2 separate regions of the Homo sapiens genome follow, and region 1 is linked to region 2. Evidence: fine-mapped expression QTL. Tissue or cell type: whole blood. Region 2 holds a variant in brackets; the other region holds the start of a gene. All regions are shown on one strand. Distances are from middle to middle.

Evidence for each region. PIP is the estimated chance that this variant, and not a neighbour inherited with it, causes the effect.
Region 1: CEBPA starts here. The variant in region 2 is fine-mapped to the expression of CEBPA in whole blood (INTERVAL, PIP 0.95).

Annotation. Positions count from the first base shown.
Region 1 is chr19:33,298,426-33,306,523 of GRCh38, reverse strand. CEBPA (CCAAT enhancer binding protein alpha) reads left to right here and starts at 3,990. Exons shown (of 1, transcript NM_004364.5): 1 at 3,990-6,590. The coding sequence starts at 4,110. The coding sequence ends at 5,186. It overlaps CEBPA-DT (CEBPA divergent transcript), which reads right to left and starts at 3,703. Exons shown (of 1, transcript NR_026887.2): 1 at 1,467-3,703. RefSeq lists silencers at 3,250-3,509, 3,590-4,159.
Region 2 is chr19:33,258,104-33,266,201 of GRCh38, reverse strand. No RefSeq gene overlaps it. Among named protein-coding and RNA genes, the nearest start is that of SLC7A10, 36 kb to the right of the region's middle. The variant C/T (reference allele first, on the strand shown) is at 3,865.

The sequences.
Region 1 (8,098 bases), 40 kb before region 2:
TAAACCAAAGTAAAATAAAACATTTCTAGGGCTCTGTTTGTCTTCTCAAAATGGTTAGTGCTGTGATTGACTCCAGAATCAGGCTTCATCCTGGAGCATCCAAAACTCAGGACCACCGTTTCCCGGGGACTCACGCTCAACCCCCCACACTGGGCCTGTGTACACCCCCATCCACAGCCTCAGGAAGAAGGACCTTAAAGGTGGTCACAGAAGAATTTACAAGCTGCTCTTAGGACTGGCTTTGTCTCAGTTGCACATGAGCCAGAGCCACTTCTCCCAATCAAAGGTGATTTCTCCTTTGCTCCCACTTCTCCAGCCACAAGCCAACTGTCTATGAGACTGTCAGACATCAGCCCCCTCTCCCTTACCCTGTGGGACTCTCCCATGGAAAGTGCCTCCATCGACCCCAGGGTCTCACCCCAACTCCCCAGCTAATTTCCTGCTTTAGGGCTTGGGCAGGACACTTCTATCTAGGGCCCTAGACACCCCCTGTCCTCTGAGAACCCCGCCAGGCCTAGCCAGAGACCTACCACTTGCCCTCAAAACCATTTCCTCCTCATCCCGAGGTACACTTTTAGGCTTCCAAGGAAAAACCAGAACATGGTAGATGGATCTTCGCAACTGCTCCAAGGTCTTCCCCTCCAAAACCACAAAGCAGGCAGGTGAGTATCCTGGAATGAGTCCCCAGTGGCCTCCTGGGGGCTTGGAGAGGGGCCTCCAATTTCCTGGGCATTATATGTGTCAGGGGGTGGTAATCCCAGCCAGAAGCCTGGCATTCAGCCCCCAAGTCCTGACATCTTGTTCTAATCTACCCTGCCCGCTCATTACTGGGGCAATACAAGTCTCCATCCTTTCCCATCTGGTCAACACCCCCTCTCCGTCTTGGCCAGAGTAGATTCTCAGGAACCCAAATCCGACAACGAAGCTCCCCTGCTAAAATCTGGAGGTCAAAAGCCTGGGAGATAAGGGTTCCCCCTTCACCTGCAGTGGCCTTGGCCATCAGCCCAGCCCTGTCTGCGGATCCAGCCTTATCTAGGCCCCACCCTCCCTCACCCCACTCTCCAGCCGGCCAACCATCTCGTTCTTTGTTACCAGAACACATGCACTGGCAGGCTCTCCACCTTTGCACTTACCATTCCCTCCTCCTAGAAGAGCCTTCCTCCCTTATCCTTCCAGCAAATTCCTGCTCAACTTTCAAGGCCCAGCTCAAAGGTCTGCTCCTGCATGAAGCCCTGTCTCACCGCCGGTTCAGTCCAAGCAGGCTGCCATCATAGACCTACCATAAACATTTATTTCTCATGGTTCTGGAGGCTGGATGCCCAAGGCCAAAGCCAAGCTGCCAGCACCCTCAGGTTCTGGTGAGGGGCCTCTTCCCTGCTTGCAGACGGCCACCTCCTTTCTGTGCATGCCCATGACATTGTTCTTCTGATAAGGCCACCAATCCTATCAAATTAGGACCCTACCCATATGACATCATCTCACTTTAATGACTTCCTAAAAGCCTTATCTCCAAATACAGTCACATGGGGGTTAGGCCTTCAACATAGGAATTTGGGGCAGGGACACAGTTCAGTCCATAACACCTCCGCAGACAAATCTGATCTCTGCCTCCTCCACAGCGCCACCTTGTTCAGGGCAGGACTTCTCTTCATCACAGCACATCCACCCTTGATTCCCATTTGTGCCTCGTGTGCATTTGATGAATGAATGAAGTCCCATCCCCTACTCCTTCTGTCTCCTCCTTCCTCCCAGCAGCCTCTGTGTGACAACTTATCCGTCTCTCCCACTGTCCCAGTTCCCAGAGGCAGGAGCCACCCTCTCATGCATCCCTGGGCTCTCGGCACCCTGCACAGGGCAGGCCCGGGTGGGTGAATTCTGGTTCAATTGTAGGAGGACCTGTGGCCCCTGGGGTTGGCGAACCCCGGGCCGGGAGTCCCACTCCTTGCCATTGTCGCCCCCACACATTCATCAGCCCCCTATTGGACAAAGTCTTATTCCCATTACTGAGGTTTCTTCCAGTCCTACGGGGCAGAGTTCCCGATCTCTGGGCAGGCAACAGCAGCTGTGCAAAAAAGGCCAGACATCGCCTTCCTCCCACAACTCCACAGGCCGGGAACCGTGCATGTACAGTGGCGTTTCTTTGTTCCTAGGTAGGAAAAGCCATTAGTTTTAGCACCGCAGAAAAAAACGCAAATCGCTCTTGGTGCTTTTTGATTTCCGTCCAGGTCTCCCTCCACAGGTGAATGCTATATGAATGGGTCCTGCATTTGGCTCAGCAAGCAGCTCTCCGGCTCACATCGGGATATTTATTTAACGTATCTGGTTTTTACTCCCTCCCGTCCAAAAGCGTCAAGCTAAAAATATCTTGTTTATGAGCTCTGGACCGAAAACGAAGCAGTTGGGCTATTAATCACTGGGACTATGTTGAATAGGAACTTGATTAAAGCGCAGTGTGCGTTGCCCAGATGAAACTGCTTCTTTACTGCGATCGTCGTGGAAGCTCGGGGCTCTCCAGCGGTGTTTTTAGCTGTGCCCCCTCCGGGGCTCCTGGGCGGGTCGTGGCGCCTTGCCAGGCCTAAGGCCACTGTCGGTGAAGGGGGTCTTCCCTCACCTGTAGGCAAGCGCGCCTCTAGCCGGGACGCAGGCGGCGTCAGGCCTCAGCGCCAGTGGCGAGGGGCGGCGCGGGCAAGGACAGGAGACACTTGAGGGCTCCCAAGACTCCATCTGGGCCCAGCTGACGGTCCGTAGCCGCCACCCCGGCCCCGGTAAAGAATGCGAGGGACGCACGTGGCTGGGGGTCTCGGTGGCAAGCTCCTTCCCCCGCCGCGGTGAGAGCATTAGCTGCCGCACTCAAGGGGCCCCAGGGCCTGGCCGCCTCGGTCCCTAGGATCCCGGGGACTACAGCGCCCGGCGAACCACTGGGCAGAGTTCTCCCTGTGCGTGCTCGGACCTGGCAGCCCGGCGGCCTGGACACCCTCGCTCCCGCCGTTGGCGCCCACCTGAATGGGGAGGCGGGGGAGGAAGCGGTGGCTTCGGGCCTCGAGGGCTGCGGCCCCCGCCTCGGAATCCCGGCCCCAGAGTTAAGTTTGTCTCCTCCCTCGGTGCGCCCCTCCCCGTGCTCGCCCCGGCGTCCAGCTCCGCTAGTCTGGGGGGCCCCGCGGTCCCGCAGGAAAAAAAATCGGCGACTCCACGCCGGGTAACAGCGCCGGCCCCGCGCGCCTAGCAAGCCGCGCGCTCCGACCTGGAGAAGTAATTATAAAGAAAGTTTTCCAGCCCGGGCGGATCGACCGGCCAGGTCCTCCAGGCTCCCGGGCCGAGGCCGCCTCCGCTCCCCGCGGGGTCCTAGCGCCCTGCGCGGCGCCGCCCATGGGACCCCGGCGTCCTCCGAGAGGTACCTCTGCGCGGAATCACAGGGGTAGCCTGGAGATCAGAGCTAGGAGACGCAGAGCCACCGCGCTCAGGACCTCTCCGCGCGTCCCAAACGGCCCCCCACCGGCCCCAGCCCCGCTGCTCTGCGCTGCAGCCTCCCCGGGACGCGGGTCCGGGACAGGCCTGGTTCTGGCTTTGAAAGAGAATCCGCGCCCCAGCAGCTCAAGACCAAGACTCGCCCTCCGCCCCCCACCCCTACCCCGTGCAGCCTCGGGATACTCCTGGGCTCCCGGCCGTGGCTGGATACGGGCGCCTAGGGCAGGCAGGAGGAGGGGGCCCCCGCTACCGACCACGTGGGCGCGGGGGCGACGGCCGGGCCGGGGGCGGAGCTTGGAGCGAGCGCCGCGGCTCTGCTGGGCGCGCTGGAGGCGGTGGGCGTTGCGCCGCGGCCTGCCTGGGGAGCGCGGCGCTGTGCCGCGCTGGTTCGCCGCCCCATGCCGGCCGCGCGCTAGGACCCAGCAGGCGCCGCGCCGCCGCAGCCCGGGGACAGAGGCCGCCTCGGACTCTAGGGGGCGACGCGGCCTGCCGGGTATAAAAGCTGGGCCGGCGCGGGCCGGGCCATTCGCGACCCGGAGGTGCGCGGGCGCGGGCGAGCAGGGTCTCCGGGTGGGCGGCGGCGACGCCCCGCGCAGGCTGGAGGCCGCCGAGGCTCGCCATGCCGGGAGAACTCTAACTCCCCCATGGAGTCGGCCGACTTCTACGAGGCGGAGCCGCGGCCCCCGATGAGCAGCCACCTGCAGAGCCCCCCGCACGCGCCCAGCAGCGCCGCCTTCGGCTTTCCCCGGGGCGCGGGCCCCGCGCAGCCTCCCGCCCCACCTGCCGCCCCGGAGCCGCTGGGCGGCATCTGCGAGCACGAGACGTCCATCGACATCAGCGCCTACATCGACCCGGCCGCCTTCAACGACGAGTTCCTGGCCGACCTGTTCCAGCACAGCCGGCAGCAGGAGAAGGCCAAGGCGGCCGTGGGCCCCACGGGCGGCGGCGGCGGCGGCGACTTTGACTACCCGGGCGCGCCCGCGGGCCCCGGCGGCGCCGTCATGCCCGGGGGAGCGCACGGGCCCCCGCCCGGCTACGGCTGCGCGGCCGCCGGCTACCTGGACGGCAGGCTGGAGCCCCTGTACGAGCGCGTCGGGGCGCCGGCGCTGCGGCCGCTGGTGATCAAGCAGGAGCCCCGCGAGGAGGATGAAGCCAAGCAGCTGGCGCTGGCCGGCCTCTTCCCTTACCAGCCGCCGCCGCCGCCGCCGCCCTCGCACCCGCACCCGCACCCGCCGCCCGCGCACCTGGCCGCCCCGCACCTGCAGTTCCAGATCGCGCACTGCGGCCAGACCACCATGCACCTGCAGCCCGGTCACCCCACGCCGCCGCCCACGCCCGTGCCCAGCCCGCACCCCGCGCCCGCGCTCGGTGCCGCCGGCCTGCCGGGCCCTGGCAGCGCGCTCAAGGGGCTGGGCGCCGCGCACCCCGACCTCCGCGCGAGTGGCGGCAGCGGCGCGGGCAAGGCCAAGAAGTCGGTGGACAAGAACAGCAACGAGTACCGGGTGCGGCGCGAGCGCAACAACATCGCGGTGCGCAAGAGCCGCGACAAGGCCAAGCAGCGCAACGTGGAGACGCAGCAGAAGGTGCTGGAGCTGACCAGTGACAATGACCGCCTGCGCAAGCGGGTGGAACAGCTGAGCCGCGAACTGGACACGCTGCGGGGCATCTTCCGCCAGCTGCCAGAGAGCTCCTTGGTCAAGGCCATGGGCAACTGCGCGTGAGGCGCGCGGCTGTGGGACCGCCCTGGGCCAGCCTCCGGCGGGGACCCAGGGAGTGGTTTGGGGTCGCCGGATCTCGAGGCTTGCCCGAGCCGTGCGAGCCAGGACTAGGAGATTCCGGTGCCTCCTGAAAGCCTGGCCTGCTCCGCGTGTCCCCTCCCTTCCTCTGCGCCGGACTTGGTGCGTCTAAGATGAGGGGGCCAGGCGGTGGCTTCTCCCTGCGAGGAGGGGAGAATTCTTGGGGCTGAGCTGGGAGCCCGGCAACTCTAGTATTTAGGATAACCTTGTGCCTTGGAAATGCAAACTCACCGCTCCAATGCCTACTGAGTAGGGGGAGCAAATCGTGCCTTGTCATTTTATTTGGAGGTTTCCTGCCTCCTTCCCGAGGCTACAGCAGACCCCCATGAGAGAAGGAGGGGAGCAGGCCCGTGGCAGGAGGAGGGCTCAGGGAGCTGAGATCCCGACAAGCCCGCCAGCCCCAGCCGCTCCTCCACGCCTGTCCTTAGAAAGGGGTGGAAACATAGGGACTTGGGGCTTGGAACCTAAGGTTGTTCCCCTAGTTCTACATGAAGGTGGAGGGTCTCTAGTTCCACGCCTCTCCCACCTCCCTCCGCACACACCCCACCCCAGCCTGCTATAGGCTGGGCTTCCCCTTGGGGCGGAACTCACTGCGATGGGGGTCACCAGGTGACCAGTGGGAGCCCCCACCCCGAGTCACACCAGAAAGCTAGGTCGTGGGTCAGCTCTGAGGATGTATACCCCTGGTGGGAGAGGGAGACCTAGAGATCTGGCTGTGGGGCGGGCATGGGGGGTGAAGGGCCACTGGGACCCTCAGCCTTGTTTGTACTGTATGCCTTCAGCATTGCCTAGGAACACGAAGCACGATCAGTCCATCCCAGAGGGACCGGAGTTATGACAAGCTTTCCAAATATTTTGCTTTATCAGCCGATATCAACACTTGTATCTGGCCTCTGTGCCCCAGCAGTGCCTTGTGCAATGTGAATGTGCGCGTCTCTGCTAAACCACCATTTTATTTGGTTTTTGTTTTGTTTTGGTTTTGCTCGGATACTTGCCAAAATGAGACTCTCCGTCGGCAGCTGGGGGAAGGGTCTGAGACTCCCTTTCCTTTTGGTTTTGGGATTACTTTTGATCCTGGGGGACCAATGAGGTGAGGGGGGTTCTCCTTTGCCCTCAGCTTTCCCCAGCCCCTCCGGCCTGGGCTGCCCACAAGGCTTGTCCCCCAGAGGCCCTGGCTCCTGGTCGGGAAGGGAGGTGGCCTCCCGCCAACGCATCACTGGGGCTGGGAGCAGGGAAGGACGGCTTGGTTCTCTTCTTTTGGGGAGAACGTAGAGTCTCACTCTAGATGTTTTATGTATTATATCTATAATATAAACATATCAAAGTCAATGTCGGTGTCTTTTTAAAACCAGAAAGAAGCTACTTCCAAGGTTGTCTGTGGGCCAGGTCACATTTGTAAATAATACAGCATTTTCCCTGGCGGCAATCCTGACTTTCATGAGCTCTCCATCCATCCTGAGCCCCTCTTACCCTAAGGGGGTGACTTACTTCCCCCAGGCAAGACAAATAAATAGCAGAGGACAAGGCTCCAAATGGAGTATGTCCAGAGCCTGAAGGCAGTCTCTTGGGGTCAGGGGAGGGGGCTGAAGGGGTTACTGGGCTGAGGCCTTGGCGAGGCTTCTTATCTGCCCCGGGGAGGAGGAGAGGGAGTCCTCTGCCTGAGGGGTAGGCCTGGCTAAGCAGCCCTAGGCTCAAGGAGCCCTTTGTGCAGACTTCCTTGCAAATCACCTACAGCTGCAGCCCTGGCCACTCACACACACCGCAGCTCCAGATTCCAGCAGGACCCTCGGCCAGCAGGAAGAGGCCTCCAGTGGTAGGACCCTCCAACCCTCTCCTCTTTCCCTAGACCATGTGGCTACACCCTACCCCTGCGAGGCCCGAAGGCAGCCTGAAGAGAGAGACCCCTCCATCCAGCCCTCCACACCTGCCCAGCCCCAGCCCTCACAAGAAAGGGGGCTGAGGCAGGCCTGCAACAGGGGTCTGGTCCTGCCCCACACACTGGCTGTTCAAGAACCCACCCAGCATCCACACTCCCCACTGCATTCATCCCAGACCCAGCAGGGGACTGAGTGCTGGTGTGCCCCCAACTCCAATGAGCACCCTGTAAGGTCAGGCACTCCGGCACCCCCTTAGCAGCAGTGACAGCCAAGCAAGGGAGGGCAGCCCTTATCCCTGAACTAACAAGGCCCGGGAGAAAGAGGCCCAGGAGGCTGATGGTGCTTTTCAGATTTTACCCTCACGGAGGGTAAAAGATAAATTGCACTTTTCTTTTTTTTTTAACTCTGTACCGAGAGAATGTTCACTGAGTGGCTTACTGTGTGTACCAATGCGGGCTGGGGCATTTTCGAGAAATTACACATTCCTTTTACACTCTGGAAGCTTAGCTTTACCTGCCTGCGTGGTTAGCTGGCACCCCTTCCGGCCCCCCACTCTGTCCTGTGTCTGGCCGCCTCCTCACCCACGGCCGCCCTTGGCAGAGGAGAGGCCACGAGCCCAGTGAGGAGGCGGCGCCTGCCCCGCCACCCTGGGAACAGAGGAGGCAGAGCCCCGCCGCGTGCCCCGAGGCCTGGGGCAGGTCGCAGCTTGCTAAGCCCCAGCAAACCCTCTGAGTTCAGTGCTAATTCCAGTTTTTCTTGTTTGAGGGGGCTGATCCCTGGCTTCCCCCTTTCCCCCCAGAACAGGTCCTAGGACGGGAGGGGGTGGGGCGACCCTCCTGCCCTCACTCCTTCCCCTCCTCTCTGCTGTGCCAGCCCGCTAGGGGCTTCCTCTTTTAAAGCTGATGGCTCCCGGAAGGGATCCCTCCTACCCCGAGTCCTCCTCCTGGTCCTGAGTTCCAG
Region 2 (8,098 bases):
TTCCCACTGCATTTGGTGCACAGCACATGACTCTGGTTCTCTCTCATTCAGGGCCTGGTTATAGCAGAAAGTCTGGCTCTCACTGAGCAAGGACCCAGATGGGGACACTCAGAGAGGTGGGAAAGAATCTCCCCCACCCCGCCAAGGAGGGATGCAGCTGTGCTGTAAGTGATGGTTAAAGCCATCTTTAAGAGAGGCAGGGCGCCATGGCTCACTCTTCTAATACCAGTGCTTTAAGAGGCTGAGGCAGGAGAATTGCTTAAGGCCAGGACTTTGAGACTAGCCTGGGCAACACAGCCATCTCTACAAAAAATACAGAAATTGGCTGGGCATGGTGGTGCCCACCTGTAGTCTCAGCTACTCAGGAGGCTGAGGTGGGAGGATCACTTGAGCCCGGCAGTTTGCAGCTGCGGTGAGCTATGATCGCACCCCAGCACTCCAGCCTGGGAGACAGAGTGAGACACTGTCTCTAAAAAGAAAGAGGGAAGAGAGAAGATGCCCGTAGCTGCTTTAGGTGACAAACGGCCTTGAAGCCGTGAAGGCCCACTCCCTTCCACAGGGAATGCAGCCCCATCTCCGCAAGCCAGTCTCTGAGGCCACCCCTTCTTGCTTCCTCCGCCAGATACCCTGCCCAGCCCCCTCCCCCAAAATGAAGCCAGGTGGGGACCCTCTGTGCTGCTGGCCTCCAGGCCCTGCCCTGCTGCCCCTGCCTTCAGCCCCTACCACCCACACCACCCTGAAACCCTTCCTCTCCCTGGCCACTGTACCTCTCCCAGACCGGCGGTTTGCCTCCAGCTGGAGCCTCCTGGAGGCTGGGAGAGAACCCCTCGCCTGGGTTAACTTTAGTGGTGATTCTAGAAGCAGGACGCTGCTGAGGAAAAGGCCAAACTGTAGCTTTGTCCGCTCCACCCCAAGCCTTTGCCTGAGCTGGAACTTTCCTCTAACAAGCCCTGTAAGAGGAGCTTCACACCATGCTCCCTGTGTGAACCATGGTACCTGTGAGTATTGGCAATGATATTATGCCAATGTGCTATTATGTGCATTTAGCATAAAAGCCACTTGTAAGTAGTCACGTGGCAAGACCACGGCTGGGGCCCAGAGAATCCTGCTGGGGGCCCATAACATGGGATTGGCCCCCTGGAGCTAAGGCCAGGGCTGCAGTGCAGGAGGCCCACACCCGCAGGGGATCCTGCCCGAGGGGCAGGGCTGGATGAGAGGCAGTGAGCCCAGAGCATAGACAGAAGACAGTGGGCGTGTGTGTGTCTTGGTCACTGCGTGCGTCTCTAGGTAACTTTGGTTTGCACGTTTGTGAGGTTGAGCGTCTGTCAATGTGAGTTTCCGTGCATGGCTGGTGACTGCATTTGTGTGTCTGTGCATGGGCCTGGGTACATCCGTGTCTCTCGGTGTGTTTATGGATCTGTTCATTCAATCACTGCCTGGTGCGGCCAGGCCCTAGACAGACTGGAGGGCTCGGTCCCTGCCCCATCAGGCCCACAGTCTGGCAGGAGGTGAGCAGGAAGTAGGAATTACACCCATAATCCCTAGGCAGGATGGTGACAGGGGGAGCTCACGCCTCGAGGGTGGAAGCCCCGAGACAAGGGACCTGCTGCAGCTTGGCACTCGGGGACCCTGGATGCTTTCATGAAGGACAGGAAAGCCGAGTGCCATAGGAGGCATGGGAGTTGTCATGGGGAGGAGAGTTTTCCAGGCAGAGGGGAGAGCATTTGCAAAAGCCGGGGCACTGAGGAGGGGTCGAGGCAGAACTGCAGGTGCTAGGAAGCCAAGGGGTGTGGGAGGTGAGGGCAGGAAGGACAGGAGCTAGACACGCAAGCCTGGAGGCCACCATGATAATGGTGGCTGCTTCCTAGAACCGTGGGAAGGTGAAGTTCGGAAAGCAGCCCGATCATGTGGTCATTTAATAATACGACCATTCTGGGCCGGGCACGGTGGCTCACGCCTGTAATCCCAGCACTTTGGGAGGCCAAGGCGGGCAGATCACGAGGTCAGGAGATCGAGACCATCCCGGCTAACACAGTGAAACCCCATCTCCACTAAAAATACAAAAAATTAGCCGGGGGTGGTGGCGGGCACCTGTAGTCCCAGCTACTCGGGAGGCTGAGGCAGGAGAATGGCGTGAACCTGGGAGGCGGAGCTTGCAGTGAGCTGACACTGCACCACTGCACTCCAGCCTGGGCGACAGAGCAAGACTCCATCTCAAAAAAATAAAATAAAATAAAATAATAATAATAATATGGCCACTCTGTTGGCTAAGAGCCTGGATGAGGCCAGAGCTGCCATCCCATGAAGAGAGATGGTGGCTGGGGACGTGGGGCGGCAGGGGAAGACGTGGACAGGTGCGGGCATGCAGAGGCAATGGAAGGGTGACAGGCAAGGCCTGGCGACGGCTCAGGTGTCAAGGGCCAGGAGGTGTACATGCTGTGTGTGCACACGTGTGCACGTGAGCCTGTACAAACGCCTGCCAGGAGCTCAGGCCAGGCCCTCTCTCCTCTCCCTCTCCCCTCTCCAATCTCTTGCCCGTGTCCCCCACAGCCTCGCCGCGGACATGACAGTGACGGTAAGAAGGACTCAGTGTTGCAACTGCATTTCCTCTCGAACCCAGGGCCGCCAGAGATTAGCTGAGAGCCCCGTGTGCACTGGGCGATAACACCCCCACCACTCCCCCCGCTTCCTAATCTCTGATTCATTTCCAACTGATAACAGCATGAGGGCCCATGGGCGACGAAGAAACACCCCAGTGGGTCCTACCAAGGCCACTGTCAAGCCACGTGCAGGGACTCCGGGGAGCAGAGACAGGGAGGGCGAAGACCAGGGGTGATTGCAGAGGCAGAGACAGAGAGAGGAAGAAAGAGAATGAGAAGAGAGAGAGAAAATGAAAATGGGGAGAGAATGAGAGAGGGGGAGAAAGAGAGGGAGGGGAGGGCAGCGGGAATGGTCGACGGGTGCAAAAATATGGTTAGGTAGAATGACTAAGATCCAGGATTGATGCATGCAGGCCTTAATACCCAGGTGATGGGTTGATCTGTGCAGCAAACCACCATGGCACGCGTTGACCTATGTAACAAATCTGCACGTCCTGCACATGTATCCCAGAACTTAAAATAATTTTTTTAAAAAAAAGATTCAGTATTTAATAGCACAACAGGGTGATGACAGTCACCAAGAATTTACTGTACATTTAAAAATAATTAAAAGAGCATGATGAGAATGTTTGTAACACAGAGAAAAGATAAATGCTTGAGGGACGGAGACCCCATTAACCCTGATGGATCATGACACATTGCATGCCTGTATTAAAGTATGTCATGTACCCCGTAGATATATGCACCTGCTATGGACCCATACAAATAAAATAAAAAGAAAGAGGAAAGGAAAGAGAATGAAAATGAGAGACAGACAGAGAGAGAGTGAGGATAAGGGGGAGATGGAGACAGGCGGAGAGAGACAGAGAGACACAAACCCCCCAGGTCAGGGCAGGGTGACGAGGAAGAGAGAGGAAACAAGGACAGTGGTGGAGGGACAGACTGACAAATGTGTGCAGATACAGAGAGGGGCTGGGGGGTCCTGGGGGCTAGAAGGACTTACTAAAGTGATAGAGAAACAGAAAAACAGGCCAGGCACAGTGGCTCATGCCTGTAATCCCAGCACTTTGGGAGGCTGAGGCAGGCAGATTACTTGAGGTCAGGAGTTCAAGACCAGCCTGGTCAACATGGCAAAACCCCATCTCTACTAAAAATACAAAATTAGCCAGGCGTGGTGGCGCACACCTGTAATCCCAGCTACTCGGGAGGCTGAGGCAGGAGAATCGCTTGAGCCCAAGAGGTGGAGGTTGCAGTGAGCCAAGAT[C/T]GTGCCACTGCACTCCAGCCTGGGCAACAGAGTGAGATTTTGTCTCAAAATAAGAAACAGAAAAACAGAGAGAAGGGACTGAGTGAGAGCAAGAAAGGGAAGAGGTGACCCAAGGTCAGGAGACAGAGGGAGTGAAAAGGAGAGAGCAAGACGGTGAGTGGTGGGGTGCGAGGCTGGATGGGCCCTCCCTGGCCCTGCCCATACTGCCTAGACACCATGGGTTAGGGCAGGACAATGATTTTACTGGCTCGACCCCTGCCAGGTACAGGCCTCAGCTGGGGCAGGGTGGCAGGGACAGCACACACCCCTGACCAGTCCAGAGAGCCCCAACCCTCAGGTGGGGCAGGCAGGGCTGTGGGCTGCACAGAGCTGAGCGGGGCGGATGGAGCCATGCTCCTTGTCCATGGACTCGGCCAGAGCCAAGGAGACAGAGCAACCCATCGGGTCTATGTGGATCCTGACGGGGTCTGGCAGGGCTGGACAGTCAAGGTTCGGGGGTCTGGGCTCAACCCCAGGGCTGTGATGGCGTGGCAGCCATCTGTGCTTTCCCAGAGCAGGCAGGAAGTGCCTGCAGGGAGCTGGAACCGCAGTGCTGGTGCTCAGGGCTGGGACAGGAGGGAGCCGGTTTCCCTCCACTCCCCTCCCCAACCGAGCACTCCCCTGGGTTCACAGTCTGGGTCATGTGGTGATGCTGAGAGTTTAGTGGAAGAGGAAATGGGAGCTCCAGGAACTACAGAGGCCCGGCCACCTCCCTTGCTCCTAAGCCCCTGCACCAGATCCCCCCTAAGTATAGAAGAGGGGTACAGACAGCTGCCCACCAGAGGGGCGCCAGGGCCTGGGAAGGATCTCACAGGCTCCTGGGCTCAGGCCTTCCTTTGGGGATGAAGAGGGTTCCCAGAGCAGCCAAGCCAGGGGCTCCGGGCTTAGCAGAGGGGAAGGGGCAGGGGGTGCCCCCTCCACCGACCCCAGTGCTCAGAGCTGGTGGGAGAAGGGGGCCCTATGCAGAGGGAACTTGACGAGCAGGTGCCAGAGAAGCAGAGGCTGAGGAGCAAATCACGAAGCCCAGGGGGACTTCACTCTGAGTGCAGAGAGGAGCCCAGGGGCACTCCCAAGCAGGGGAGCTTCAGTGCTGTTGGTGTTCTAGTATGTTCCTCCATCCCCCCCAGGCCTTCAGCCCAATGCATGAAGGCTGGCAGCACATGGGGCCCAGCCAGGGACCCCAGCTCCTTGCCCCTCCAAGCTAGGGCAGTCACCCCTCTGATTTGCCGTGCCCGCCCTGATGCCCTGCCTGCCGCGACCACAGGAAGCACTGCCCCAGCTCAGCACTTCCCTTTTCTGAAATCTGCCCCCAGCAGCCCGGTGGCCAGGGAAGACAGACTTCCCGCTGCCCCCCCGGGCTCTTCCCACCGGTCACAAGTGGTTTGTTCCTGAGCTTCCCTGGGCAGAGGTGACCTTCTTGCCTCAACCACAGATCAGTTATTTATCAGAACAGGAAAGATGGCACCAGAGATATGTCCTCACCGCCCCCAGGAGGGCCTGGCCTGCTCCAACGACCACACGCCCGTTCCCCACATCATACGGGGCCTGCTCACCACATCACACAGGCGTGCGTGTGGCTGGCGCGTGTGTGCAGGGCTGCACCAGGGAGGGGCCGGGTGGGAGGCCTCGTGGGCAGATCGGGTGGGATGTGGGATGCACCCTGGCTCGTGGGCTCAGATGAGGCTCCCTGTGCCAGCCGGGAGCAGTCAGGATATCTGGCGTCCTCCAGATCTGATGAAAGACATCCTTCCTCCAGTCCCAGCCTCAGCTCCAAGCTTCCCCACAGGGAATACCCTGGGATAGGGCCTTAGCCAGCTTCTCTATCCCTCTACCCAGAGCGGACAGAGGGCTCACCCCCTCGGGATTCAGGACTCACTGTGGGTGTTTGGGGTTGGATACTTCTGTGTTGTTAGGGCCATTCCGTGCATTATAAGATATTTAGCTGCATCTCTGGCCTATATCCACTAGACACCAGGAACAATTTTCCCATCACCACCACCAATTGCAATGATCAAAAATGTCTCCAGGGCACGGTGGTTCATGCTTGTAATCTTAGCACTTTGGGAGGCAGAGACGGGAGGATCTCTTGAGCCCAGGAGTTCGAGACCAGCCTGGGCAACATAGCAAGACCCCTCTCTCTTCAAAAAATATAAGTATTAGCCAGGTATGGCGGGGCACACCTGGAGTTCCAGCTACTCAAGAGGCTGAGGCAGGAGGATCGCTTAAGCCCAGGAGGTTCAGGCTGCAGTGAGCTAGGATCATACCACTGCACTCCAGCGTGGGTGACATAGTGAGACCCCTTCTCTTAAAAGAAATGTCTGCAGACATGTCAAATGTCTCCTGAGAGTACAAGACTATCCTAGGTCAAGAATCAGTGATCCAGGTGCACCAAAAGACCCTGGCTTCCATGACTAAAAAGTTCTAGGTCTCAGTTGGCCTGCGTCACAATTTTTTTTTTTGCTAGAAAGCTATGGACTAAGTTGACTAATGAGTCAGAGCCTGGAGTTCTTGGGAGGTGGAGGCTGTGCCCGTCTGCAGGATCTGTGCTGTAGGGCCTGCTCTGGGGCTCTGAGCACAACTGCCTTGCAGAGCCTGGAGCCGGAAAGAGCACCCTTGTGACCGGAAGGGAGATGGTGAAACTGGGAGGTTTTATTCAAGAGCAGATCCAGGAGCTGTATCATGGAACGTAAGTGAGGCACCTTGGAGCCACAAGGCCCAGGGTTGGGGGCTTAGGCTAGAAAGAACGGGAAAAACTTCAGAATCAGGGCAGAACACAGGGCCAGGATATGAGTCCTGGACTCCCCGAGGTGGCGAGCTGGAACCGACCCCCTTCAATAAACTGCAGGGCTGGAAGGGCTGCTCTGTACAAAAGGGATGTGTAAAGCTGATCCGAAAAAAGTAGTAGCAAGGCCAACGTAGTGGCTCATGCCTGTAATCCCAGCACTCTGGGAGGCTGAGGCAGGTGGATCATTTGAGGTCAGGAGTTCAAGACCAGCCTGGGCAACATGGCAAAACCCCATCTCTACAAAAAATACAAAAATTAGCTGGGAGTGGTGGCACATACCTGTAGTCCCAGCTACTCAGGAGACAGAGGTGGAAGGATCTTGCTTGAGCTTGGGAGGTGGAGGTTGCCATGAGCCAAGATCACATCACTGCACTCCAGCCTGGACAACAGAGCAACACTCAATCTCAAAAAAAAATAATAAAAAATTAAAAAAAAGAAGTGCTAGTGAAGCTTTCTATCCTCCTGAGGCAATGGCAGGAAAAAGTTAAGTGTGGATTCAAATGTACACAGTCCAATAGTTCTAAAACTCCAAATCCAGAAATTAACATAAAAATGTATATACAGCCATGGCTGGGTGTAGTAGCTCACACCCATAATCCCAGCACTTTAGGAGGCCGTGGTAGGCAGATCATGAGGTCAGGAGTTCAAGGCCAGCCTGGTCAACGTGGTGAAACCCTGTCTCTACTAAAAATACAAAAATTAGCCGTGCGTGGTGGCACACACCTGTGGTCCCAGCTACTTGGGAGGCTGAGGCAGAAGAATCGCTTGAACACGGGAGGTGGAGGTTGCAGTGAGCAGAGATGGCACCACTGCACTCCACCCTGGGGGACAGAGCGAGACTCCATCTCAAAAAAAAAGAAAAATGTATATACAGCCATGAAAGAAACTTACTTCCAAGCTACTTTGCATGGACACTTTCACAGCCCAGACACAGATCCACAGGAAAATTAACCCCGATGAAGATGAGCTCACAATAAAAAGTAATCATGAATGACGCAAAAAAGCAAGCAACTATGTCAGTGGGAGATCTTAGATCTAGAGATATTAGAACAATTTGTAAAAGACTACATAATAATAAGTATACTTACATAATAAGTATACTTACATAATAATAAGTATACTTAAAATAATTAAGATAGAAAAGAGAGTGGAAGACATAATAAAAATATTATTTTAAAATAACAAGTAGATTTCAAAAGAAATCAAAGAGTCCTTCAAAAAATACTCATTGCAGTATAATATAGAAGCTCAGCGAATATAGCAAATTAGTTGCAGCTCAAAGGGGAATAAGAAAAATATAAAGCATATCTGAGGAAATTTCATGACATGCAGCACACAGATATGAAAACAAGGAATATATGAGAGTCTAAGATTCTTGGAGATATGAATGAGAAGGGCCAAGAAGGGCTA